Homo sapiens: one gene and its partner. The protein of the gene in region 2 binds, or shares a complex with, the protein of the main gene of each other region. Links are inferred from orthologs where the notes say so. Each region holds a gene or a part of one and is shown on either strand. Other genes may lie near its edges. The genes, in order: PLXNA4 and NRP1.

Region 1 (9,229 bases), on a different chromosome or scaffold from region 2:
TACCACTCAGCAGCAGAGCCCCCTTCAGTCTCCCTGTGGGCTCCACCTTCCTACCGCAACTTGAATGGTACAGCCTGGGCAGTGAGGACAACATGAAAGAAGAAAGAAAAAGTCTGTGCAGCTAGAGGGGATCAGGTGGGAGTCTGGGGAGGGAGCAGTGGAGCTTGCAGCTTTTAAAGAGACAGTGTCCTGTCCACAGGGCCCTGTGTGGACCAAGCATAGCTCGATAGAGCCTATAGGCCAATTACCCTAATCATGTGCATCTCCCAAACAGCCATTTATTAGTGAGACGTCTTTTTAAAATGCCGCTTTTAAATATAAATAACACTTAATCATCCAGCTGTCGTTAAATTCATGTTATATTGATTTCTTGGAGTGCCGCAAATTTGAGGGCGAATGGGCTGGCGGATGTGCGCACAAAGCCAAGAGGTAGATTAGCAAGTGGTGGGGGCAGAGAAGTGGGGGTTGGAGGAAAAGGAAGGGAGGTGTCAAGGGAGGGAAATGAACCTACTCAATAGCCCAGGGTCTGAGCCAGTTTCACATTGGGTAGCACTGGACACAAATAAGAAGAGAGGAGACGCTGGCACATCTGTTGCATAGTCTAATGAGAGCCAAGATCATGGTCGTGTTTTCTGTATTGCTGCCGCCCCCTTGTAACCCACCACAGAGCCGCTCCAACAGGTCTCTGATGTGCATTGTCTGCGTATGCCTTCTCTAGGTGAGGATGGGGAGAAGCAGCTAAGAAATGCCCCCTAGCTGGCTAGGAGGAGAGAGATCCACAGCGATTTCTCTGCATCAAAGCCTGATGATAACTATGAATCAAGAGTGGTTAATGACCCAGCCCCTTTAGCTCTCTCCCACTTCGGGACTGCTGCCATCCTAGAAAGCCCCCACTTCATTCCCAGCAGCCCTCATTGTGATGAAAAGGATCCCGAGGCCAAGTGTATGTAGGCAGACTCTGCCGTGCAGATTTCCCTGTCTGCAGGGAGTAGCAGCAGCAGGCGACAGGAAGGCACAGAGAAGGAGAAAGGAAACAAGTTGACTGCCTTGGAGTCCTCCAGAAATGTCTGCAGTGTCCCAGTGGGCATCCAGGAGGAAGTCCTGGGAGGACAGATGAGAGCCCGGGGAGGCGTGATTGGGTAAGAAGGAGCAGCTTGTAGGTGACCCATGCCTAGTGCTCACAGGAGAGCTGCCTTAAGCACCGTCTACCAGGCAGCGAGGGTCTGCTGAAAAGAAGCATTCATGGCTGGGGTTTTTCTAGTGTGACTCCCTTCCCAGTGAGAAAGACCTCAGAGAACTTAAAAGGAAGGGCACAGAAGAGTGGCAGAGAGGGTGAATGACAGCGTGGCATGCTCCAGGGCTGGGCAAGAGAGCCAGGAAAACGTAATGTATACTCCGCTTTACAGAGATGTTAATTAATGCCTGCCTTGTCCTAGAAACCAAATTGGTACCTAATGCTAAGTGCAGAAAGTGCAGAGATTTTCTGAACCCAGATGTTTAGCTTATAACCAGCATAATGATACTAGCTTTGCATTAAAATGATGGATCCTGAGGCTGCGAATACATGAGAAAGGAAAGAGGGTAGGGAGGAAAGCAGAGAAAGGAGTGGAGGTCTACAGGGAAGACACAGACATTTCAGGAAGATCCTGTACCCTATCCCTTTGCCTCTTCCAGGTCCCATGAGGGACTGTTTACCTGGGAGGCACCCACTGTTGCTGGAGCTCATTATTTCTTTTGCAAACCATGTGCTGCTGTACGCGTAGGTGGGATCTGCCTGTCCACGCCCTCAAGGGGCATGTGGGGAGAAATGTTCCATTTCTTCCACAGCCCGGAAGACAGAGGTGGACCCCATTGTCACACATGGCGGGGGCGGGGAGCTGACCACATTTAGCCAGACTCTGAGAACGCATGTGTGTATATATATTGGGTGTGTGTGTGCACACGCCCACCATTCTTAAAAAGCAAATAAGGTTTCTTCCCCCTACTGGGGTCTCTCCATTGTGAGAGATTTGCTTTATTCCATCTATGCTTTTCAATCAATCAAAGGGCAGCTCACACAGCACACAGCGGGAATACAATCTCCCTCCCGGGGTGTCTGCGCTTCTCCCCAGCCTAGCCAGAGACCTTTGCAGGAGCTGAAAAAAGTTTGGAAATAGCGGAGTCAGGGTGCTGAAAAAGCCCTTTCATTCAGCCCCTATCTTCAGGATTTACAAAAACAACCCAAATTCTGAGCCTAGCACTGAGGCCTCCTTGTTCAAAAGAATGTTTGCTCCTCTTCCATCATGTTCTGTAAGGCTCCTAACATATTTTTTCCACTGGTGGGTCTGTGGGATACTCTGAACACATGATCTTGGACAGAGGGTACAAGCTTATTCAGTTTTGTGGGAAAATGATATGATCATGTTGCCTAGAAAGCTACCTCAAAGTGACAGCACCAGAAACACAGGAGCTTGTACATATATATTCAATTCCGAATTTGATTTGGATCTCATGTTCTTCTCCCTATGACAACTGAGACCCTAAATTAGTTGCTCTTAGACCCCAAGAAGGGAACTATGGAAAAGCCTCTTAGAACCCCAGCCACTTCCTACCTCCTCCAGAAAAAGTTAAAATGAGCAGCCTGTGAAATTCCAGCCAGAGAGAACAAGAATGAAAATGCTTTCGGGAAATAGGACCTTAAAGCACGGGCGTCTGGGGAGTGATTCTACAATCGGAGCAGGCTTGGGCTCTGGGGGACGCTGGCAGACCCACGAATGCCTTGCCTTCTCCGGTGGGCAGTGCCGCCACGGTCGTGAGGGAGGGGAGCCTCCTCTTTTGGAGGACTATATCCCTCGTGCTTCCCCCTTCTAGTTCTCTTTCTCAGACACACACCACGAAAGGCATGTGACAGGTGTTCGCCAGCCGGAGGCACCGGGGAAGGCAGCCCCATGTGCCCAGGGAGGGTAGGGAGGTGAGAGGGGACCCAAGTCCTGTGTCTCCAAGTCCTGTCTGCTTGCTGCTAAGCAGGCACTGAGGCTGTGAATAAGGTCTTACCTTTTAAGGAGGATCTGACCCCCGTACCTTCCCTAGACAAGCAACATACGCGGCGATGCTTTAAGCCGCTTTCTGCCTGAAATCTCGGCGCATTCCCGGGGAAGCAGTGCCACGCTTCAGAAAGGCGTTTGTGCTGCCTCTTACTGGGGAAACGCAGTGTCTGTTTCATATGCGCCGCCCTACAGAACTGCAGCCCCAACCGCCTATCTGGCCTCCTCCCCGGGCGCTGGGCCACCACTCTCTCCAAATATGCGTCCGAATATCTGTGGGTCTGTCTCCCGTTGAAATCCCAGGGTGTCCAAAGGCCACGGGGCCGCGATGACACTGGGTAGGTCTCCGGAAACCTCTCAGGACTTCTCCCATTTTAAAGCCCAGCTAGGGACGAAAGGGGCTGGGAGCTGAAAAATTGCTCCCTCAACCTCCCCGGGTGGGAGGCAGAGCCGGGAATACACAGAATCCCACCCCGAAAGTCCCGGGAAAGAGAAGTCTGAGTCCAGGAGCGTGAGAGGAGAACACACCCGGGAAATCCCTGCTCCGGCCGCTGCACCTCCGCGGGCGTCCAGGTGGGACGTGGGCAGGTGCGCGAGCGCCGTGTGTGCCGGTGTGGATCTGTGTGTGTGCCTGCGTGTGTGCGTGTGCGTGTGCCGCGGGCTGGCTCCGGGACACTGAGGACTCCCGGGTCGGCCCAGGTCTGTCCGACCTTGCTGCCCTCGCCGCCCGCCCGGCCCCACTCCCCGGCGGGCCGGCTCCTTACCTGGACGCGCCGCGTTTCCCTCCTTCAGCGGGAGCGCCGCATTGACACTGCAGATGGAGCCTATGCCGCTGCCTCTCGCCCTCCTCTGAACGTGTGCGTGTGCGCGCGTGTGGCTGCCTCCTCCAGCCCCAGCCCCGAACGCAAATACTCCACCGAGGCACAGGGAAGCCGGGAGCAGCCGAGGAACGCGGAGGGCGCCGAATCAGAGCCTGCGGGGCTTGACAGCTTCTCTTGCGGCGTCCAAGGTGGGCGTAATGTCCAACAAAAAGGTCGGAAAATGGGGATCGATTCCGAACACCCCTTTCCTCCACCCAGCCCCGGAGCCCGAGCAGCGGCGGCGGCTCTCGGGGGCTGCGGTGGCGACGCCGGGCTGCCCCCCTTCGTCCCCACCCCCGCGGGCTGAATGTCCTTGATGCCAAGCGGGCACAGCGGCGTCACTCCGCGCCGCCCATGCTCGCCCGGTCGGGCCGCTGCCCGGGCGCGGCGAGTGCGCGGGGGACCCGCCGGGGAGCGCTCTCGGCGCCTCTGCGCGCCTCTCTGGGTAGCGGCGGCCGCCCCCCGGCAGCCCGCGGCCGGCCGCGCCGCGGCAGCCCCCACCCTTGCCGAGACACTCGCCGGGCAGTGCCCTGGGGCCGGGGCTGGGGGGCCGCGGGAGCCGCCGGCTGCTCCCCGGGGAGGCGCGGGGCTGCGGCGGTGGTGGCTGCGGCGGCTGGCGCTGCGGCGGCGGAGAGCTCGGCCGCGGGCCGAGCCGGGCCTCCCGGGCGCGCCCCCGGCCCCCCGGGCGGGCTGCTCGCAAAGTTTGCAGGGGGCAGGGAGCGGGGCCGCCGCTGGCTCGGCCGCCGCCGGAGCTCCCGGGCTGCCTGCTGCCGCCGCGGCTCGCTGCTGCTGTGCATTGAAGCCCGGCCAAGCGCTGCAAAAACTCCAGCTGCCTGGCGCTCTCTGGGTCCTCCTCTCCTCCCTCCCGCCCTCCCTGCTTCCCTTCCTCCCTCCCTCGCCTCGCCTCCTCTCCTCCCTGCCGCCCGCCGCCCGCCGCCGCTCCCTCTCTGGCTCGCTCTCGCTGGCTCGGAGCTCGCGGCTGACATCTAGAGCGAGGGAGAGCGGCCGGCAGAGGGGGCAGGGGGCGCCTCCCTACATGCTCCCACCCGCCGCCGCCCGGCTTGCCGGCTCTCCTCCGCACCAACGTTTGCCGACACCCCCCTGGGTCCCCTCGGCCCGCACGGAGCTACCCTGGCGGTGGCGATGTGGGGCGGAGAGAGGGGCATACATGGGTGACCGGAGCGCACGGCGCGCGCTCAGAGGGAGGCGCTCAGCCGCCTCGGAATTTGCAGCTCTGGGCGCTGGCCGTCGGAGGGACCCTCAGGTGCTCAGAGCTGACACAAGCGCACACTGACTCTGAGGCATACACCCATTGCTAGTCAGAACCCCTCCCAACACCCCACCAAGTCACCCCCACATGGCACCCAAGGAGGCCGAGGACACTGAGGGCACAAGGCCCGCACGAGAGAACATGAGTGGCCAGTGCCCCAGAGCTGGCTTGGTAACCTGACTTTTCCATTCATGTTTATACTGAGCGGCTCTCCTGGCTCCTCTCTTCTCTGAAACCCTAGATCCTAGACTACATCCAGAACAGACCATGCCAACATCAGGGTGGTTTCTGAAGCCCAAAGAAAGAAATCACCATGTAGCTCTGGTTTAGGCAGTGAAGATGGGGAGTGGGTGGCACTACCTCCCAAACCTCTGCCTAGATCCCCCTAGGAATGGGCCCACCCACCAAGAGAAACCGAAGGGATTCCCACACCTGTTAACTCAACTCTGTGCATGCCACCCTCATCCTCATACCCGCTCCCACCATAGTCTGAGGGAAGTGGCACCTTCAGCAGAGTCCAGTAAGCATTCCCTGGGATAGGCAACCAGCAAGGACGACCCTCTAAAGGAGCCCATGGCTCTTGGCCTCCTCTCTCCTGTCCCTTCTTTAGTTTTCACTGTCCTCACACCCAGAAACTCCCGCCCATTACTGTCCCTCCCATCGAAACATCTCAGAGCCTCCTTATTAGGTGGACATGACTGATAATGGCTTAAATGCCTATACCTCCCTATAGGGGTTATATTCTCACAGAAATCGAAGTTGTGTGAATTGGGGAGCCTTTGAAAGGAGCTGTGAGATGACAGCTTAAACAAGCCCCAAGGTGAGCGGCACATATAGGTCAGGCTTGGCCCACCCAGAGAGGACCCTGCTGAAACTTTGCTCTCACCAATGAGAAGATGAACCAAGCCAGAATGAGGAGGAAACCACATGTTTGATTCTTTGGTTAAAGGATATTCCAGGAGACAGCGTGGAGCCCTTTTAGTCTCTGGTTCTCTGCTGAGTCTTGCATGGCCCAGAAAGCAGCAAGGAGTTATCTTATTAAGCTTACATGAATACATTGATCTGACTCCACTCTTCCCAGAAACCCTGAATCCCAGACTCTAGATAAAGCACACAATATCAGGTTAGTTTCAGAAGTCCAGAGACACACATAACAAAATCACTCAATGCTACTGCCTCTTGAACATCCTTCCAGGGTGGAGGAAGCCCAGGGCCAAATGCCTCTCTCTGCAAGACTGGGATTAGCACAAGGCCAGCCGGGCACTGAGGATACAAAATCCAAGGAGGCCCTGTCACCCCAAGGTCCATGTAAGGTTTGCATCACCTGATCCTGACACTGCTTCTAGGTGTCCCTTTTAAAATTGCTGCATGGGTCCATCACGGCCCATTTCCAGAAGTGACAGCCCGGATAGCCCCATGAAAGTCCCTAATGGGTTACTTAAGGAATATCGTTCAATTAAAGGCGCGGGGGAGACTCCTTTCAAACTTCTGTTGGCCACTCAGCTTTCAGGGTATGTCATAAAATGCTGAAAGGAAGGGGGGAAGGTGAGAAAACAACTCTGTCTCAATTCTCAGTCATTCTAGCATGTATTTTTAATACAATCTGATTGTCTTTTTCCTCCTCATATCGGTTGTATTTGTGTGTGTGTGCGTGTGTGTGTGTGTGTGCGTGTGTGTGTGAATATGGCTTGAGTTCCAGGCCCATTTCCTGATGGATGGACGGGAAGTCAAAGACCTTTTTTTTTTTTTTTTTCCAGAGGTGGCAAATAAAATGTGTTTATTATTCTTTATCTCCTGCCTAGTGTGTGGTGTCATTTATTTTCATTCAAAGAAATGAATGCCATGTGGTGCCTGAAGAGTAATAACAGAGCCAAATGACAGGGAAGACACACAGCAAAAAGCTGGACCAGCCACGGGCAGGTGAGGGGCCCAGCGAGCTCTCCCGTTGTTAATGGGGCCAGGGGCCATATCTCAAATTGCCTTTCCCCGGTTGCCTTCCACTGAATAACACGGTAAAAGGCATACCAAAGGGGGCAGTTATCATATTATCGGAAGGAGGAGTAGAAAGGGTCAAATTAGCTGCAGTAGAGGATTTTTTTTTTTCAGTGATGACCCATTGGATTGACTCCCTTAAGTTAGGAGAATGGAATGGGGTGGGATGAGTAGGGCCTCTACATTGGAAGTTAGAAAACACATGTCCTACTCCTGGCTCTGTCATTGGCCAGCTTTACAATTTGGAGCGGGTCACGTCCTCTCAATGATACCTCATCTCTCACCTGACACATTCGCCCCTTAGAGTTGCAATGACATTCAAAGGACATACCATCTTATTAATGTGCTTTGAAACTCTAAGGTAGGTACAAAACACATGTAGGGAATTAGAGTCGCTTTCCAGATGAATGTATCTTTTTATTTTTTTCAAATAGAATGATACAATGAGGGTAGGCCTTCTGCTATCTTGTCCCCACCCCAAGAATAAATACACAGGCAAAAGCAGCATCTTACCACAGTTCAAAATGTGTTTCTGCATTAGGTACAAGATCTTCTGGCTCTCACACCTCCTCTACCCCCTCTCCCTTGGTGAGGGCTAAGGGAGACACAAGTAGGACCATCTAGGTGTCCCCTACTGACAATGGCTCTGTGAGTCACTCCCTCTACCTCTTGCCTGGTCGTGAAACTGGTTATGTCATTGTCTGGACCCATGGCCACAAGAGGGAGAAGCTAAATGGCACATTGCTTCAGAGAGTCCTGTTTTCTAAAGAAGCTATGTCTGTGGGACTTGGGTTGGGGTTTATTGCTGGGTTTAGACAGAAAAAGTATTGGTTCATCTCCCACAGCTGAATAAAAGGACCAGTTTAATAGGAAAGAGGAGAAGAAACTCTTAAGTTTCCCCTCACTTAGCTACCACCATTTTATTAGCCTAGGAACAGTGCTGCTATTTAAGTTGATAAAAGCCAGATTTGCTCGTTAAATAAATCACCAGAGCCTGGTGGTGCTAGAGAGACATTTTCTTTCCCCCAAGAGCTGCCCCCATGGCTGGGTCTTGTACCTTGCACTGGATAGAAAAACCACAGGCAGGCAGTCAGCAGCTTAAAAACCTAAATTGTGGCGCCACCTGCAGGACAGCAGGAATATCATCAGTATCCCACAGCTCAGCAGAGGAGGCAAGAGGAGCCTTCCGCAGTGACACAGGTGAGGCCAGGGTGCCCTCTGGCCCCTGCTTTCTGCATGTGTCACCACATGTCCACAGCACACTCCAGCAGCCTTTAATCTGCATCCTCCTTGAATGCTGCCATTTCGAGGGATGGGCAGCAGCTCTCAAGATTCTCAGTCCATTCAAACTAACTTATTCTTCCATCTGTCTCCTAAGGGACTAAGTGGACCTCTAAGCCAAGGGTTCTGTCTTCAAGACTGGACCATGGAACAGTAAAACAGAAAGGAGAAGTGACTGCCTTTCAAGGAAGATGAGGGGAGGAACATCCTTGTGTCACCACAGGGCCTACTAGTAAGTTGAACTTGGTGGCTGGGTATTCTCAGTAGACCCAACTGTTCCAGGCTTCCCTAGCATGTGGGTGCAAATCAGCACAGAGATATTAACATCCGAATTTCAACTCCCAGCCTTTTCTGCTCAGATAAAACTTTGGCCACCACTGAAAAACCCCTCCCTGTCTCCTCCCATTATGTCAGAGACCGCCACTGGTGGGTGTGCTTAGGAACAAGTCTGACCATTTCATTCACCACAAGTACCCTCTTGGAAATCCACTGCCCATGAGCCATTTGATGGAAGGACATCTCTGCATTGCCAGCTCTGTGGTTGCCCTCTGCAAGGGCACCTCCACCCGGCTGCACTGCTGGACATGGCAAGCTCTGCTGCCGTGCCATGGCTTTCCAAGCCACACCGGGGGGTTGGTGTTTAGGTGGGGAGGACACCCCTCTCCTCCTACACACACACACACACACTGTGGATCTTGATCCTCTGGGCACCAAAATAACTCCCATGCCTCCCATGGTCCAAGTCTTACTCCCCTTCCTCCCCAGACCCTTTCATCCACTGCCCCCTCTCCAGAATGCTTCCT
Region 2 (9,049 bases):
ATTAATTCTAATTACCTAAATGTTGGGTGAAAAATAACCCACCACACAGGTCTGGGTATCACATATGGTAACCCACATTCTCACATTCTGGGAAAGGTGAGCTAAGTAGTTTTGAGCCTTCATTTCAAAAATGCTCAAGTGAAGCCAAATAAACCAAGTAAACCAGTCTCTGGGCTGCCTATATTGTTCAGCATAGATTCTCATTGTCACATTTTATGATGGATTTCATACTGGAGCACCTCAGCCTGAAATGCTGCCACATTTATTGATGCTTAATTTTGAGCAATAAAAATTCGGTGCATAAACTATATAAGAGAAACGGTATGAAAACAGTGAAATATATAAGCCTATCAATCACAAATTTTCAGTAATGGTAGATGTAGATTTTAACACTGCATCTAATAGATTCCCTGTGGAAAGAGAATGGCATTCTTTGCTCTCAGCATGAATTTATAAATCTACAGAATTTTATTACAGGAAAACCAGGTCAAATGGAAATGAAAGATGAAGTGCACATCAAAAATGCATAAAGCTACATGCATTACAGAAATCATTTCCCATAAATTAAAAAAAGAAGACAATATAAGTTATATTGTTTTTCTCAATCGCTAGGTGCTTCTGACTTTGTTCCTTAGACTGGGGGTAGTCTTATGCTGGTTTCCTTTGCACTGGCTTGTAAAAGTGTAAGCTTTGCCAGGAAGAAATGATGTTGCAACTGGAGTTCAAAATCTCAGCTAATGATCATGTTGGACTCTGTTATGTGATTCTGCTGAGACTCTTGCATTATTTTGAATGTGCAGAAAACTTGGAAAGTGACCTCGTCTCATTAAGTTTCCTCTAGCTCTGGACAAACATCATGGTAGTGTCTGGCATCTGTTACAGGAGTGAAATAAAACAGCACTGGTTCTAGTCACTCGACAGAGTCACTTCAGAAGACATTTAGGTGGACTTGGTACCACACCAGAGCTCTTTAATCTGTGACTTCTGAGAAAGTGACAGTGTAATAAGATAATGTGGACTGCTAGACTCCCTGGCTCTGTTCAATCTCTCTAGCAGTTGATTAAGAAAGAGCAGTTTCTAATGACTCTGGACCATTAGTCCTAAATAAGGTTAATGAATTAATTTAGCAGACACTGGTTACTCAGAGGAGGTGGACATGGCTTTGAGAGGTCTGCTGAGTTACAGAGGCATTTTCTGGCTCTGGTCACTTCAAGCATAGCGACATGGCTTTTGCTGGTAAAGCTCAACAACTAAAGCCAGATTTTCAGCATTCCCCAGATTTCTGCTAAGAAAACTAAGAAGTGTGTGTGTGTGTGTGTGTACTGCATATATATTTGTGTAGTTCACAACCTAAAGTCTGATAGCTCTTTGCATTGAGCTTCAAATCTATCTTGTGAACACCCCCACTATGGATTTAGTCTCAAGAGTTGTGGAGGACAGGGTTACTATAATTTCTAGTCCAACCATTTGAGCTCTTTCAGTTGGACGAGAATGCTATTTCATTCCCTGCCAGAGTATAGAAAGATGCTACCAGCTCAGGTTCATTAATAAATTGAATTCTACATTCATAATTTTTTGTGTCTTGCTTTCCTGCCAGATTATAGAAAAATGCCATCAACTTGGGCTCATTAATAAGCTGAATTCCATGTTCATAATTTTTTTTTTTGCATGTGTTTTGCTTTAAGCATCTCTTAAAATACTGCTTGGTAGCTGCTGAGGGAAATCCATTGCTAAAATCACAAAACCTTGAAAAAGCATATTAGAGAGATTAACTTCCATCATAAAGATGTGATTTAAATTCCTGTTGGTATGAGGCCCTCCACTTGCGGTCTCTTATTAAAACAATATACCACAGTAAGTAGTGGATGTTCTTTTCTTCTAATTACTGTGATTGAAATCTAAGCCAGACAAAAGTAAATATTTGATCATTAGTTAATAACAATTGCTGACGACTTACTGTAAAGATAATTGCATACCCTTGCCTGCACTTACTTTACAGTGTGAAGTCAAACATGCCTACAACCAGATCCCATTTTAAAACACATTATTTAGGTTACATGGTACTGTTTAGACCCCAGTATAGTTTTTCATTTACTTAACAGTGAGTGATTTTAAAAGCTAAGTGGAAGCTGCAACTAGCTTAGGGATTTTCAGATATCCTGGTGCCTTACACTGTATATGTCAGATTCCTGTATTGATACTATGTAACTTTCAGTCATACTCCAGACAGATTACGGAAGGTGTACAAAGGCGGGGGAGGGAGTTTCATCAACCCACAAACCGATATCTCTGGCCGTCACCCACCAGAGGAAACGGCTTAGGGGAGCAGCAAAGGAACCAGGAAGTAAGATCTCCTGGTAAAGTGTTCATTAACTTTCAACAGCCATCAGATTTTTGAAAGGGAGTCTCTTCTAATTGCCTTTGGGAGGAAACATTATTAAGATAATTGGCATGCTGATCTGGGAAGGTAGACAGCTCTGTCTTGTAACAGAGGTAAGGAAAAGCCCCACAGCCCAAGGATCAACGTCAGGAGGGAGCCCAAAGACCTGAAATCCTCCTGCTCTAAACCGCCTGATCTCATTTCTTCTTCTCTCCTCCCAGATAAAAGTTTCCTTCGCCCGGGAGTCGGTTGTTCCCGGCTGATCCCGGGAAGCCCCGCCTGAGCCCCGGTCCGGGGCGGGCAGCTGGGAGCCGGGGCGCCGCTGTCACCCGCGCCTCTGCCTGTCACTTACCGTTGCGAAAAGCGCCGGCCGGGGCGAGGACGAGGGCGAGCACGGCGCAGAGGAGCGGCAGCCCCCTCTCCATTCTCCCTTCTCCGGGTCCGCAGGCAGACGCGGGAGAACGAGGACGTGGGGGGAAATGCAGCAAAGAGGAGAATCTAAGCGATCCGAAGAGCCCCAACTCCGCCTAGAGCTGTACAATCCTCAGCCCGTCTTGGAGAAAAGAAAGCAGCGAGGCAATGCCTGGATCCGAGAGGAACGCTTCTCTTTTTGTGTCTCAAGTCGCCTGCATCCTGTCATTTAGCTCCGGCTTCCTCTCCCTTTTCCCACACTTGTTCCTCTTCCAGGAGCCACTGCCCGGGCCATGTCTCAAAAAAAAAAAAAAAAAAAAAAAAGGCCGGGGGGGGGCTGTGGGTGGGAGGGGGAGGAGGGAGGTAGGGCAACACACACCAAAGCCAATTTCCAGGAAGAAAAAAAAAAAATCCGGCTTGTTTCTGGACCCGTTGGAGCCGCGGAGCTGGCGCCCAGGGGAGGTCCGGGTGTCTGCGGGAAGGAGGGGAACGAGCAATGAAAAGATGAGCGGGAGACAGAGGAGTTTCACCAACTGCACCCCCGCCTCCCCTCCTGCGGCCTCCCCCCACTCCGGAGCCCTTCCCTCGCTTCCTCCCGCCCCTCTCCCCGCTTGGGCTCGCCTGTAATTGCCTGACAGGAGACTGGGAGGAACAACTTTCCCTCCGAGTGCTCTCCCCGTCCGTCTGTCTGTCTTTCCCAGAGACCCTGCAGGGATCTCCGCGGGAAGGAAGGCGCTGGGAGTCTGCGCCCCGGTCGCGTGGGTGCGGGCGTCGGAGGAAGGGGCGCGGAGGTCAGTGCCAGCCGCAGGGTCTGGCCAGCCCACCTCGCGTGCTCGCTCTGCACCCCTAGAGGGAGAGCTGGGCAGCTCCTGCAGGCGCAGATCCCGCCGCCGCGCAGTGCGGAGCGCCCGGGAGGTGGCGGCTGCTTCTCGCAACTTCAAATCCCGGGGCCCGCGCCCTCGGCGGCGAGGAACGCAGGGTCACCCCCTGCCACTCCTCATCGCGCCATCCTGAGACCTGTGGCGGGGAGCAGCGGGGCACCCCTGGACGCCCCTGCCCAGAGCTGGAGGGCGAGGAGGGGAAAGCCGGGCTGGAGTGGGAGCCGCACCGCGAAGCCGGGCGAGGGGCAGCAGTGTCGCTGTGGTGTGAAGCGAAGACAGACCGCCTGGGCGGGCGAGGCCGGGCTGCAGCCCCACGCGGCCTCCCTGGCCCGCATCAGGGCGCGCGGCTGGGTGCCCTCTGCGCGCCGCGGAGGCTTCATTGTTTCCCGAGATTTGGTGCCCGTTCCTCTGGGGCAGAGGGAACACCGGAGGGTGGGAGGTGCTGCGCCTTCCAAGCAGGGGGGCAATCGCCGCCCGACCCCGCCCAACCTTGTCTGGGAGCCCAGGTGCTAGGGAGGGGTGTGGAAATCAGGGGTCGGGCGGCCCCCGTTTCTCTGTGCATCCCGAGGGAGGGAAAGAGTGGCGGGGGAGGGGTGCTCTTCGCTGCGCCCTCTCAGTGTCCGCTCCCGGCCACAGACAACGTGCACGCCGGCCCTGGAGCTCCTGCCACCCCCACTTCCCACAGCGGCTCGTGCCCCCAGCCCGCTGGATGCCCCCCAGGCCCGTCCCCGAGGGTTTTCCGAGAAGTGCTGCAGGAAGCGTTTGTAGATGCGAAAAGCAAGGACATTTCTGGGAAGAAACAGGTTGCGGTCACCGATCAGGCCCCGGAGAAGGGTCAGTGCCCACGGGGCACCTCCCAGGGAGTTTGTGGGTAAGGTGAAAAGGTCACACGCCTCCTGGGGATTGGCGTCTACACACACAGCCAAAGTACAGCCTGATTCCTACCTGGCACAAATAGCTGGCCAAAGGGAGGTAGGAATGCTGGCAAGGAGACTCTGGTCAAAGGTTTTGGCGGAAGAAAAAGGGGCGGGCAGGGAGAAAGCCCAAGGCGCGCGGGCCCCAGGCCAGGACTGCGCGCTCGCGACTCGGGCTGGGAGCAGTGACGTGCGCCCCTCGGGGTGCAGGCCGTTCCCGGGCCAGTGGGAGGTGCACCCACGGAGCCCGCACTCGCCACTCTCTTGCCCCGGGTCAAGCCTGTCTTCTCCTCCCCACGCGCCTCGGGATTCCCAGTCGCCAAGTTGGAAACTCGGCCCCCCCGAGCGCCTCTTTCCTCTGCCAGTTTCCTCCTTCTTCTCAGCTGTCGGACCCCTGGGAGGCGCGGGGTGGGAAGTGGGCACCGAAGGGCTGGGAGTTAAATGCCTAAGTTGAGCGGAAGGAGCACTGTCGAAGCCATGGGCAGCCCTGCGCCCGGGCAGGCGGGCAGGCGGGAGGCGAGGCGGGGGCGCCGACCGCGCCCAGCGCAGACCCCGGGGGAGTGAGCGCCGCAGAGGCAGCCTGGGCTCTCGGCTACTACCCGCGCGCGGTCGCCGCCTCCCCAGGTGCAGCCCCGCCAGTCCCAGCCCCCGGCTGCGCCGGGCGAGCGGCATCATCAGATTTAGGGTGACCCGGAGCGACCTCGGTCCAGGCTCGGAGGGAGAGGCGCCTCTCAGGACCTGGCAGGTTGACAGGGAAGGGGAACCGGGAGGGAGCGGCGGCCGGGGCGGCCTGGAGTCTCGGAGGCCCGCCTGCGTCCTGGGGGGACCCGACCTCCGCGCTCGCTCCGGAGCGCCCGTTTGGATAGCTCTGAGCCTCGGCGGGGTGAGCGAGGGGGCACACGAGGGAGACTTGAGCTGTGTTGTTTTTAGAAAACTGCCGCCAATCTCTCTTCCCCTTTCCCTGCTGAGTGTGCATTTTCCAGCCTAGACCCGCCAGGCCAGCAAATAAAGCCACCGGATCGTGCACTCCGGAGCGACTGCCCCCACCCCGACCTTGTCTTTCCCGAAGGGAATGGCTCCTCCGGCGCCTCAACGCACAGAAAACGCCTGCCTCCAGCTGAGCGCTTTTGCCAGCTTTCTCCAACCAGTGAATAAGGGATGCACTATGGACTCAGAAGGAAATGTCATATTTAAGTTCTGCCTCTGATTTCTCTGCTCTTAGCTGATCTAAGGTTTTTCTAGACTCCTTAGTTTCCACTCACAGTGCTGGGTAATGGAGCCCTACCGCACTGATTGAGAATTGCCGGCCAGTGGGTTGGTACAGAGCAAATTGTCCTTGCTAACAACCTTTTTCCTTTGCTGTTGGATTCCACTAAGTGGTGAGAGGGGTCAGTTTTAGATTTTTGCAATTCCCCAGCGTGGAGACAGGCCGGCTCTATACGAGAATAAGTGATAGGCAGAGGAAGAATTTGGCAGTGTTCCCGGGTTGATTTTATTTTGGTCTCTTGAACACATTATTCTTCCTGATAGAACAAATCCCTGGACTTGGTAGGACCCAGTTCCAGGGAAGGGAAGAGTCCTCTACCGCACCCCCAGAACGCCCTGCAGAGGCTGTGAGTGGGCAAAGCCCAGTTTCCTGGACTCCCACTTAGGAGGTGCTGCAGAAATAAGGCCTTCAGCTGGGGCTCCCTGAGTCGGATTGGAACCGTGGCCCATCAGTAAGAGTAGACTGGATGGTAACTGCTCGATTCCTTTCATCAAGCTCTCATCCCTTTGTCAGAAATAGATGAAATCGATTGCTCCCAGAAGGCCATTTGAGCCACTAACTCCCTCAAAGTACTTCAGATTCATGCAATATGGAGATTCGGGTTGGTAGTTCAAACTGCATCATATCTAGTCAAGTTTTTTGAAAACATCAAACCCATAAATTTCAGAAAAGCAATACAAGCTCCATATTTTTAGTAGGAGCTAACCTAGTTTTGAGATGTATGAATAGATGAAGTGAAACTGGAAAAACATTAAAAGTTGGAATTTTAATTAACTAATGTTTAAAATAAGCCTATTAGTGGTTATTCTGTCAAGTGACTGTGTCATGCAAGAGGTGTCATCTGGGCCTCATTTTTGGCCATCTCCTTGATTTGTACTGACAGAGAAGGAAGGAAATAAACAAATGAATCTTCACTTTCTGATTCTACCTTTTTAGCCTTTTAAAAGTTACCTTGAAAATTCCTCAAATATTGGAGAAACGACTACCAACTAAAACGTTAACACAAAGTTACAATGTGAAGTTTTTGTGATACAGTATATTTACTAACCAACAAGATGAAGAAAGATAATGCTAAATTTTGAATCACACTAGATTCAAAACATTTGCTAGAGTAGAGGTTACAGCCATATTTGAAAACTGTATTATTTTTCTGAGATAATAATATTAAATGATTTTGCCTTCATTGGATTACTTTTAAATTGGGAAAATTAAAATAATTATAACCAACAGAAACACTCTTCAAATCAATAGAGACATCATTAGAGAGAACATATTCAAAATTTGAAAGGACTGTTTTAAATAGGGCAATCTTTAAAATATAATTTGAACAACCAGAATAGAAAACTGGCTGCCTCTTAATATTTAATCATAGTTTTATGTAAATAGCTAAAATTTTAAATCAATAAAAAATAATTTTTAAAAATATCAAACAATGGCCACAACAGTTAAGAATTGTTGAATTTATTCTCAAAGGATGTAATTTCATTTTGCATTTTTATTAGATGACTCTGGCAGTTGCCTGTAGAATGGGTTATGGGCGGAGCAAGGGAAGAAATGAAGAGACCAGTTTTGAAGTAACCATAGTAGAATCTAAAGGAGAACTTCAACAAGGATCTGGCGGTGGAGATTGGAAAAGGATGCTTTCCAGATGTATTGAGAAAGTCCAACTGGACAGATGGTGGTGGATAAGCCAATGAAGGAGAGGGTGTTACCAAAGATTCAGGCCCTCATCACTGATGGGTGCGATTGCCTTCATGTAAGCAAAGGGACACTAGCAAAAGGCTAATTTGGAAGGAAGATCATGAATTTGATTGGGGTTAGGTACAGTTTCTGGTGTCTTTGAGGCAATCAAATGAGTTAGGAATTCAGAGGAGATGTTTGGATTGGAGATTTTAAGTTTGTGAGTCACTGACATGTAGATGATGGCAATCAAAGTGGAAGGAATGGATAAAATTGCTGAGGAAATTTCAGGAGACCCAGGATAGGAAGTTAAGGACCCTTTAAAGCCTGGATTGTCACAGTGAGCTAACAAAATACCTTGAGAATGAGCAGCTGGGTGGTAGGTGGAAAACCAGGAGAGCCTATTGTCATAAAAGTCAAGGAGAGGGGGAATTTCTAAAAGGAAGCTCTGGACAAGAGTGGAACACCATCAAGAGTTCCACTCGGATGAGGACTGGAATGCAATTGGACTTAGTGGTATCATGGTTACTGAGAATTGACTCTTCCAAGAGTCATTCAGTGGAGCGATGGAGGAACAGGACTAGAGGTCAGATTGCAATGGGCTGAAGAGTCAATAGAAGGTAAAGAAAGAGAGAGAACACATAAAGATAAAATTCTCTCTGGAAGTTTCTACTAAAGGGGAGGAGACAGACGATAGCTCTGGAAGGAGGAGATGTGGAGGGAGGTTGACTTTTTATTTTATTTTATGTTTGCTTTTAAGATAGGGTACTTGTGAACATTCTTGAATGCCAATGGATAGAATCCAGTATTGGGGGATATGTTGAGATTAAACTACTGAAAAGATAATCCGGGTGTTGATTGCCTGGGAAGGCAGGAAGGGATACAATCTACAGCCCAGATGGACAGATTTACCGTAAGTTGGAAGAGGGACAGCTCCTCTGTTATAGCAGTGGGGAAAGAGGAGCTGATGGGTGTGATTACAAGAAGGTTTGTCATTTCAGTGGGTGGGTGTGGGGGGCAATTTCTCTCTACTCTGGTTTTCTCTGTGAAGTAAGTCGTACCTTTGAGTAAGAATGACAGTGGAGGAGAGGAGCCGAAAGTGCCTGGAGAGCAGAAAAAAATTGACGGGGACGACTAAGCTGACCAGAGAAGCTGTTGTTATCATGTTATTGTTTTGATAATTTCGTAAGTTAAAAATTTGAGCTGGGAGCACATTTTCTATGGAAGGCATTCTCCTAGAAAAATTGGCTAGTTTTTCATGAAACTCAAAAAAATCTGCTTAACTCACAAGGAAGTAGTAATATAATATGAATGGTATTCTTTCAGCTTTAGTGACTCAAAGTAGGTGTTCTATAAATGTTCTTTTTTAAAAAGAAAATTTTCCAACCATTATTTACAGCACATTAAGGAATGTGTCTATTGATGGGTAGGAAAAGTTTCCCCCCAACCAAATAATTCTTTGTAATAATGTCTTCACTTCCTCCCTGCCCTTTGTGCTTTATCCTCCTAGAGATAG

What was found.
Region 1: the proteins of NRP1 (region 2) and PLXNA4 are in contact, whole or in part, in a cryo-EM structure (PDB 7M0R), measured with the Mus musculus proteins. The link is inferred for Homo sapiens from one-to-one orthologs. Residues at the interface, in NP_032763.2 of Mus musculus: Arg80, Tyr84, Asp126, Tyr127, Glu128; in NP_786926.2 of Mus musculus: Glu272, Lys340, Lys343, Lys345, Leu349.

The regions. Positions count from the first base shown.
Region 1 is NC_000007.14:132,572,635-132,581,863, forward strand, and holds the start of PLXNA4 (plexin-A4 isoform 1 precursor), read right to left. Parts: upstream 3,837-9,229; 5' UTR 3,788-3,836; intron 1-3,787. UniProt on the Homo sapiens protein: Coreceptor for SEMA3A. Necessary for signaling by class 3 semaphorins and subsequent remodeling of the cytoskeleton. Plays a role in axon guidance in the developing nervous system. Class 3 semaphorins bind to a complex composed of a neuropilin and a plexin.
Region 2 is NC_000010.11:33,331,578-33,340,626, forward strand, and holds the start of NRP1 (neuropilin-1 isoform a precursor), read right to left. Parts: upstream 3,091-9,049; 5' UTR 2,806-3,090; coding exon 2,733-2,805; intron 1-2,732. UniProt on the Homo sapiens protein: Cell-surface receptor involved in the development of the cardiovascular system, in angiogenesis, in the formation of certain neuronal circuits and in organogenesis outside the nervous system. Mediates the chemorepulsant activity of semaphorins.